2 linked regions of the Homo sapiens genome follow. The protein of the gene in region 2 purifies or fractionates together with the protein of the main gene of each other region. This does not show direct contact. Each region holds a gene or a part of one and is shown on either strand. Other genes may lie near its edges.

Region 1 (3,746 bases), on a different chromosome or scaffold from region 2:
CCTCAGCCTCCCTCCTTGGGTCTCCCTGTTTCGCCCCTGCCTTCATCCAACCTGCCCCCCACTCTCCACACTCACTCCTGCCCAAGCCCTTTCTGGGGCTCCTGATGCCCTCCAGATAAAGTCCATGACTCTCCAGGGAGGGCCTGGAGGAGCTCCTCCCACCCCCAGCCTCTCCCCTTTGCCACTCCCGTCTTCCTCAGCTGGGGCCAGCCAGGGCCTGCTGGCTCCCCAGCCCCTCATGTGCTGCCCCCTGTTCCCCCACCCCCAAGGTCCTGTTCCTTTGTTTCACTGTCTGATCTCCCTGCTGGAACCTCAGCTCTCTAATGCAAGAGCCCCAGGGTGGAGCATACCATAGGCACTCCACAAGTGCTTGTACCATAGTACCATACCATGGGCACCGCATAAGTGCTTGTCCAATGCATGCACAGTTGAATGGATGGCAGGGTAGAGATGGTGTCCTATGTCTCAGTAACCAGAGTGCCAGGCACAGCGCCCAGACATAGTCAGCGCTCAGGTGGAATGAGTCGAGGTAACAAGAAGGCAAAACTGGCAATCAGGACCCCTGAATTCTGCCCCAAGTTCTACACGGGGTCCCTGGCAGCCTTGTCCTTCTGTTCCGGAGTTCCACACCTAGCCTCTCCATCACTGACTATTCTACCAATGGCAGGTCCAACGCAGCACTTCAGTGGCGCGGTCCTTTCCACGTCAGACAACATTCTCGCACACACCCTCTCATTCAAGCCCTCCACTGCCCTGCGGGTCCCACTTTTCCCAGACTCTGAGAGGGTACCAGGGCCCATGTGGTGGGGCACCACCGGGGTGCCAGTCACACTTTGCCCTTTGTTGGCTGTGTGGTCATAGGCAAATTCCTTGCCGTCTCTGAGTCAGTTTCCTCACTTGTGAAATGAGGATTCACCTCCCACCTAGGAAGTCGAGGAAGATTGCAAGACACCACCTGTGTAACCCACCCAGTGCCAGCTGCCTCTGTGATGTTCCAATGAGCCACAGTTACATTCCTTCTCCACGACTGACTTCCCCAAATCTGAGGTGAGAGCCTTGGCTGTCGGACGTAGGCTGTTAGACCAGTCCTGCCAGAGCAGTGTGGCTGTGGCCGCCTCTGTGGGGCCGCGGCTTGGAGGGCTGCTGTGGAGGCCAGCCTCTTCTGCGGAGGCCGACCGCAAACTCGCATCCTTCCTAAGGGCTGCCAAGACCCCGAGACACCCTGGCAGAACCTAGATACTGCTGGGGAGCCGGACGAGGGACACCCCAAGCCTCCCTCTCCCGCTCCATTCTCCTTGGAGACCCCACCAGCGCCCCGTGCCCGAATTCGCGCTTCAGACGCCCCGCGAGCGCCCCCTGGTGGGAAGCAAAGAACACCCTGGGCGCCCGGCTCGCCCCGGGACCCTCGGATGACCCCAGGTGCGACCCCCAGCTGGAGGGAGCTGGCCCTCCGCCCCTAGCCATAGCCTCCCAGCCCCGTGCAGCCTGGGGAATCCACGAACTGCTCCCTGGAGCGCCCCAGACTGGGCCTCTGGGAACGGTCCGCGCCCACCCCACCGCCCCTTGCCCGTCACTGACCCATCTTCTTCAGCGCCCGCAGCCCGGGCCTCTTGGTGCCGCCATCGGAGGGAGTCGGCGGGGACGGGAGAGCGACCGGCGCCGCGACTTGGGCTGCGACCTGGGCGGCCACCGGGGGCTCCTCGGGCGGGCGGCGGCAACGCCTCCAGCGGCCGCACAGCATGGCTTGGCGGGGGGCCGGGGCCGGGCCCGGGGTCTGCACGCGGGGACAGGGCAGCGGGGCGCCGCTCTGGCCCGGCCCCGGCTCTGAGCGAGGCGGCGAGCGAAGAAACTTAGCGGCGCGGGAGGGAGTCGGAGGAGGCAGCAGGAGGTGGGGCGGGGCGGGGCGGGAAGGGAAGGGGGCGGGGCCGGGGCGGTGCGAGGGCGGGGCCAGGCGGTGGCCTGGAAGCCCGGAGCCTCAGCGCTCGCCCCTGCTCGTGAGTCCGTCTCCCCTTAGTCCGGGCGAGCCTCTGATCTTGGCCGCAAGGGTGACTAGAGCCCCCATGCTGCGGGGCTGGGGGTGGGAGCCGGCACCGGGGACGAGGGCCATCCTCTGGCACAGACACCCTCTCCTTCCCGGGGGCCCTGACTCGAGGCTGACGCAGGACCCCCTCCTCCTTCCCTTCCGCGTCCCCGTCGCGCCGCAGGCCTCAGCAGGGAACCAGAGCCGGGACAGGACGCAGGGCCGGGAGCGAAGGCAGAACCCCGGGAGCTGAGCCGCTCGGGGCAGCGCGAACCCGAAGGGATGGGCATGGGGGTGGGGAGGTTGGCAGTGACGTCATAGGATTAACCTCCCTGTGCCAGGCCAGGTGCTGCCCCCTCGGAGAGCCACAGTCTCGGAGCTGACGGACCTGGGGAGCGTGAGGCGGAGCCGAGCCTGGAGTCCCCAGCAACTGGTTCTGGGTTCGAGGCTTGGACAGGCCGGCACCCCAGCCCGGCACCCGCGGTGTAGTTGTCCGCGACGTCAACCCGTGGGTGGGCATCCGTGTGCAGGTTCTGGTGGCCGAGTCGGGTGTGCACTTACTATTTATATGCAAGCACCAGAGTGCGTGCGCGAAGTGGGGGACGTCCAGGTGGCAGCGTTTCTGCGGCCGGTGGCCTGGGTCCGGCAGAGACATGGGCGCACACCGCCACTTTGCGGCGGCCAGCGGCGTGGCATCCTACAGAGAGGCTAGTGCTCAGGGCCTGATTTGCCACCTACTTGCCCTGCTCTACCCCATCCTCAGATCTCCCAGGCCCAGAGATTCTGCACACTGGCTTGGGTCCCTACGCCACTCTGGGGTCCTGAATTTTCTTTTTTTTTTTTTTTTTTTTTTTTTTTTTGAGACGGAGTCTCGCTCCGTCGCCCAGGCTGGAGTGCAGTGGCGGGATCTCGGCTCACTGCAAGCTCCGCCTCCCGGGTTCACGCCATTCTCCTGCCTCAGCCTCCCAAGTAGCTGGGACTACAGGCGCCCGCCACTACGCCCGGCTAATTTTTTGTATTTTTAGTAGAGACGGGGTTTCACCGTTTTAGCCGGGATGGTCTCGATCTCCTGACCTCGTGATCCGCCCGCCTCGGCCTCCCAAAGTGCTGGGATTACAGGCGTGAGCCACCGCGCCCGGCCCTGAATTTTCTTCTTGATTATCGTATTCGCCTTTGTGCTTTTGATCCTGCCGTTCCTTCCTCCAGAAACAACCTTCCTTATTCTCCTGGTTTACCCTTTTGTTATTCTTGTTGTTGGATAGGCTAAGTCTACATTTCTTTTAATTGTTATGGACACTTAATAGTTGCAGAGAATTATGGAGAGGCATGTAATGTTTTGATACAGGTATAAAATGTGTAATGATCAAATCAAGGTAATTGAAGTAACCATCACCTCAAGCATTTATCATTCCTTTGTATTAGGAACATTCCAATTCCGCTTTTAGTTATTTGTATTTGTATTTTATTTGTTTATTAGAGACAAGGTCTCACTACTTGGTTGCCCAGGGTGGAGTGCAGTGGCATGATCATAGCTCACTGCAGCCTCAAAGCAATTCTCTTGCCTTGGCCTCCCAAAGTGTTGGGACTACAGGCCTGAGCCACCACTTCCCGCCCAGTTATTTTGAAATATACAATAAATTGGCCGGATGCGGTGGCTCACGCCTGTAATCCCAGCACTTTGGGAGGCAGAGGTGGGATGATCACTTGAGGCCAGGTATTGAATGAA
Region 2 (3,746 bases):
AGGGCAGAACCACCAAAGGCTTTGTGCAGAGAACAAAATTGAAGCCGTGCTAGAGAAAAACCATACAGTGTTGGGCAGGACAGATGACAGGACAAACGGTCTGAAGCTCAGGAAGCTTGACTCACCAAGCCAGTGCCACGTGCAAGCATTTCCTATAGAAACACGTCTTGACCCAACATGCCAAAAACCATAGTTCTGTCTACAGAAATCAAGGCTTTCAGAAAAAAGTTGGGGAGGAGAGAAAGAGAGAGAGGCTTAAATAGATATTTTTAGTTCAAGTTCCTGGAACCTGCCCCAGTTTGAGCAAGTTAAGAGCAGTGAAACAATTCCTACATCCAGTAACAATTCAAGTCTCCTGATCATGACCTTGTGAAACCTTCCCTGAGCTGTCATTACCAAGGAATTATAAAGCAATTATCAATCCACTATAAATAAGTTCCTACCTGCCATTAAATCCACCAAAATCTCATGATGGGCTGAGAGCCCAGCACGGGGTCCTAGCGTAGACCTATTACCTACACTAGGGTAGGTGGTGTGAGCATGCTGCTGGGCAGTGGCTCTCTGGGCTCACTATGATGATGAAACAGTTGACTCTATGAAGTTTAACTCTAATGAAAGCCCCTATGACAGACCACCTATTTCCTTTCTAAGTCCAGACTGCTTCCCCTCCACTAGCTGGGGAGGGAGAGGCCATATGAGTGGAGGGACCTGTGGAGGAAAAATTATTATTACTACCTTGATGTCCGCTGAACCAAAGTGGATGGAAATTTCTCAGGACATATTCATCCAAACTACAAAAACAGGTTACTCCATACTGATTACAGGATGATTTATCACACATTCATTAAATATAGAACATTGACTAGCAACCAGTTTCCTCCAACAACAGATCCATTTGGAAATGGCACACTGTAGAAGGCAATCTTGTGACTTCCTTCTAGTTGTATATAAAAAATACAAATCGGTCAGGGAGTCAGGTACAAAACAGTGGTACAAAAGCATGAATAGATACGCCTTATCAAAGAATGTGCTCATTTCATATTGCAGAACTTCTATCTAGATTCTGATTTTTAGAAACTTACTGCTGGTTCATTTGTTCGGAGAGGTTTCTTCACACCTCTCTTCCACTCCTACCTCCCCTTGCTAAAATCCACTGACTGAAGAATACTTAGTATGGATCCACATGGAACCAAAATCCCCAACTGAATGGAGTCACATGCATCAGCACAGTGGCTACCGGTTTCATCTGCTCACCCAGCCTCATGTATTTAGGGACTGAATTCAAGCTAGAAGCACCCAACACTTTTGTCTTTTGGAATCTAATCCAAGTGCCAATGTACATCTAAAAGTCCCATGTATAGGAATCTCTTGATTCCTACAAATGAGATTCAAGGGAGAGAACAGTGAGGAAAGCCCAGAGAGGGGGCAGGAGACTGGCCACAAGCCAGGTGTGTACTTCCCTTTCTTAGTCTGTAAATGACAGGTTGAGCTGGCAGGACTCCATGGTCCTCACCAACTGACACTCAAGGACTCCATTCTGTATTCTGAGGTCCATTTCTATCCAGGCTTGTCAGGCTGAGTCAGACAAAACTTCCTTACCACTTTGTGTCAACAATTTAAAGTGGTTTTAACATACTTCTATGATGTAGTTTGAGGTTTTCCCTCTCTCTCCTACCCATCAAAGACTTCATTCCACTGGTACCAACCACTTGGCCAAACTGATGGCTGCTGAGGTTTAAAACTGAATCTCTGGCCTGGTGAAGATATGGCCTTTGAGTAACTTAGACCAGGGCACATTTATCTGTTTTTCATTAACAATTTTAACTAAATAGAAATATAATTCTGTTAGCTCTTCTACAGGTCTACTTAAACTTTGAAAGATGAGATTGTTCAAAAATGACACGAGAAAATCACCCATCACCACTAAGTTAAAGACTTGAATATGTGAGAGTTCCAGAGCCTCAAACTCCTACTACAGTCACTGATCCATAACATTTTCCTCTTGCAATGGACTCCACGCCAAAGTAGCTCAGTCTTGCGGCATGTTTGTGCACCAAAAAGTAGGTTTCGAAAGATCCAGCACTAGTCATCACTGTCACTGCCAGACTCACTCAACTGCAAGTCATTTCCTATTTAAAAAAAAAAATAAAGTAAAATCATAGAATCAAACAAAAGTACAGAATTTAAAAATGACTTCCTCATAATTTTTTGTTAATTGCCTTGGCTATCACACTACAGTAAAACCTTGTTAATTCAACTTAGGGAAGAAAATCAAATTGGCTCACTGAAACAAAATGGTGCTTTTGGTTATCTACAAAGCACAACAATACTGCATATTAGGGTAGAGCAAAGGAGAAGTAAGCTGGATAACTTTTAAATGGTTTAATAAATAGCAAGAAAATATTTAAAATATGTCTGGGCGCAGTGGCTCACGCCTGTAATCCCAACACTTTGGGAGGCCAAGGCAGGGAGATCATTTGAGGCCAGCAGTTGGAGACCAGCCTGGCCAACGTGGCGAAACCCCATCTCTACTAAAAATATAAAAATCAGCCACGTGTAGTGGGACATGCTTGTAATCCCAGGTACTTGGGAGGCTGAAGCAGGAGAATCGCTTGAACCCAAGAGGTGGAGGTTGCAGTAAGCCAAGATTGCACCACTGCACTCCAGCCTGGGCGATAGAGTGAGACTGTCTCAAGGAAAAAAAGAAAAAAGAAAAAAAAAAAAAAAGAAAATATTTAAAATAACTGATCACCATTCGGAAGAACTGATCACATTAAGTTGCTTTATAAAGGCAACTTAAGAAAATATCCGGTAGGCTTCCCATTAAGAAAGGTGAATACTGTTAACACCAGTAATATGCTAATGCAGTATCTGCTCTGGCACACCTCTGTCCAGGATAGTCACGTTATCTTAAATTTCAAATCTGAACTAACGTGCTTTACAAAACCCCAGATTCCTGTTTACTAGGCAGAATTTAGAAGAATATAATTACTTAACATTTCAATCTAATACAATAGGAATACATATAACAGAACCCCAGTTGATACCACTTGTAGCAAAAGTGATTTTCTTTATTTCCAAATTGCTAATCTCTAGGCCAGTTCTCCTCAAAGTCTATTCTGAGGACTCGGGGTTCCATGAAACCCTTTCAGGGGGGTCTGATCCTGAGGTCACCCCTTTTCTAACTACCTAGAATGCCAGATTTTCTTCATATACTTCAGTCTCTATGTTAAAGATGGGGCATATAATGGCAATGTCTTGAGATATTTTTGGTTGTCATGGGGCTGGGGAGGTGGGAAGAGACTGGTACTGGCATCTAGTGGGTAGACGTCAGGGATGCTCTTAAACATCCTACAATGTGCAGGACAACCTCCCACAAAGAAGACTTATCTTGCCCAAACTGCCCATAGTGCTGAGGTTGAGATTATCTCTGCCTGGTCCACAATAGTTGGATTAACTAGGTTAACTTCCCCACTGTTACCTCTAGACCTTCCAACTTCCTTAAAGGAAGGTGTACCAAGAGAGAACATTCATCAGGGTTCCAAAAAGAGAAAAGCATAGAAAATTAGCCCTCTGTTCACCTTCAAAACAAATAAATTTTTGTTCTTGTTTTCCTGTTTTACTTTAGTATCAACTGCATTAAAACACACCGAGGCCAGGCATGGTGGTTCATGCTTTTAATCACAGCACTTCGGCAGTTGGGGAAATTACTTGTACCCAGGAGGAGTTCAAGACCAGCCTGGGCA

Evidence for each region.
Region 1: the proteins of EAF1 (region 2) and PLCD3 purify together in Homo sapiens (affinity purification with mass spectrometry; 4 studies listed by BioGRID and IntAct, with this or other methods). This does not show direct contact.

Annotation. Positions count from the first base shown.
Region 1 is NC_000017.11:45,130,670-45,134,415, forward strand, and holds the start of PLCD3 (1-phosphatidylinositol 4,5-bisphosphate phosphodiesterase delta-3), read right to left. Parts: upstream 1,847-3,746; 5' UTR 1,742-1,846; coding exon 1,579-1,741; intron 1,048-1,578; exon of another isoform or gene 928-1,047; intron 1-927. UniProt on the Homo sapiens protein: Hydrolyzes the phosphatidylinositol 4,5-bisphosphate (PIP2) to generate 2 second messenger molecules diacylglycerol (DAG) and inositol 1,4,5-trisphosphate (IP3).
Region 2 is NC_000003.12:15,437,492-15,441,237, reverse strand, and holds part of EAF1 (ELL-associated factor 1), read right to left. Parts: intron 2,130-3,746; coding exon 2,083-2,129; 3' UTR 1-2,082. UniProt on the Homo sapiens protein: Acts as a transcriptional transactivator of ELL and ELL2 elongation activities.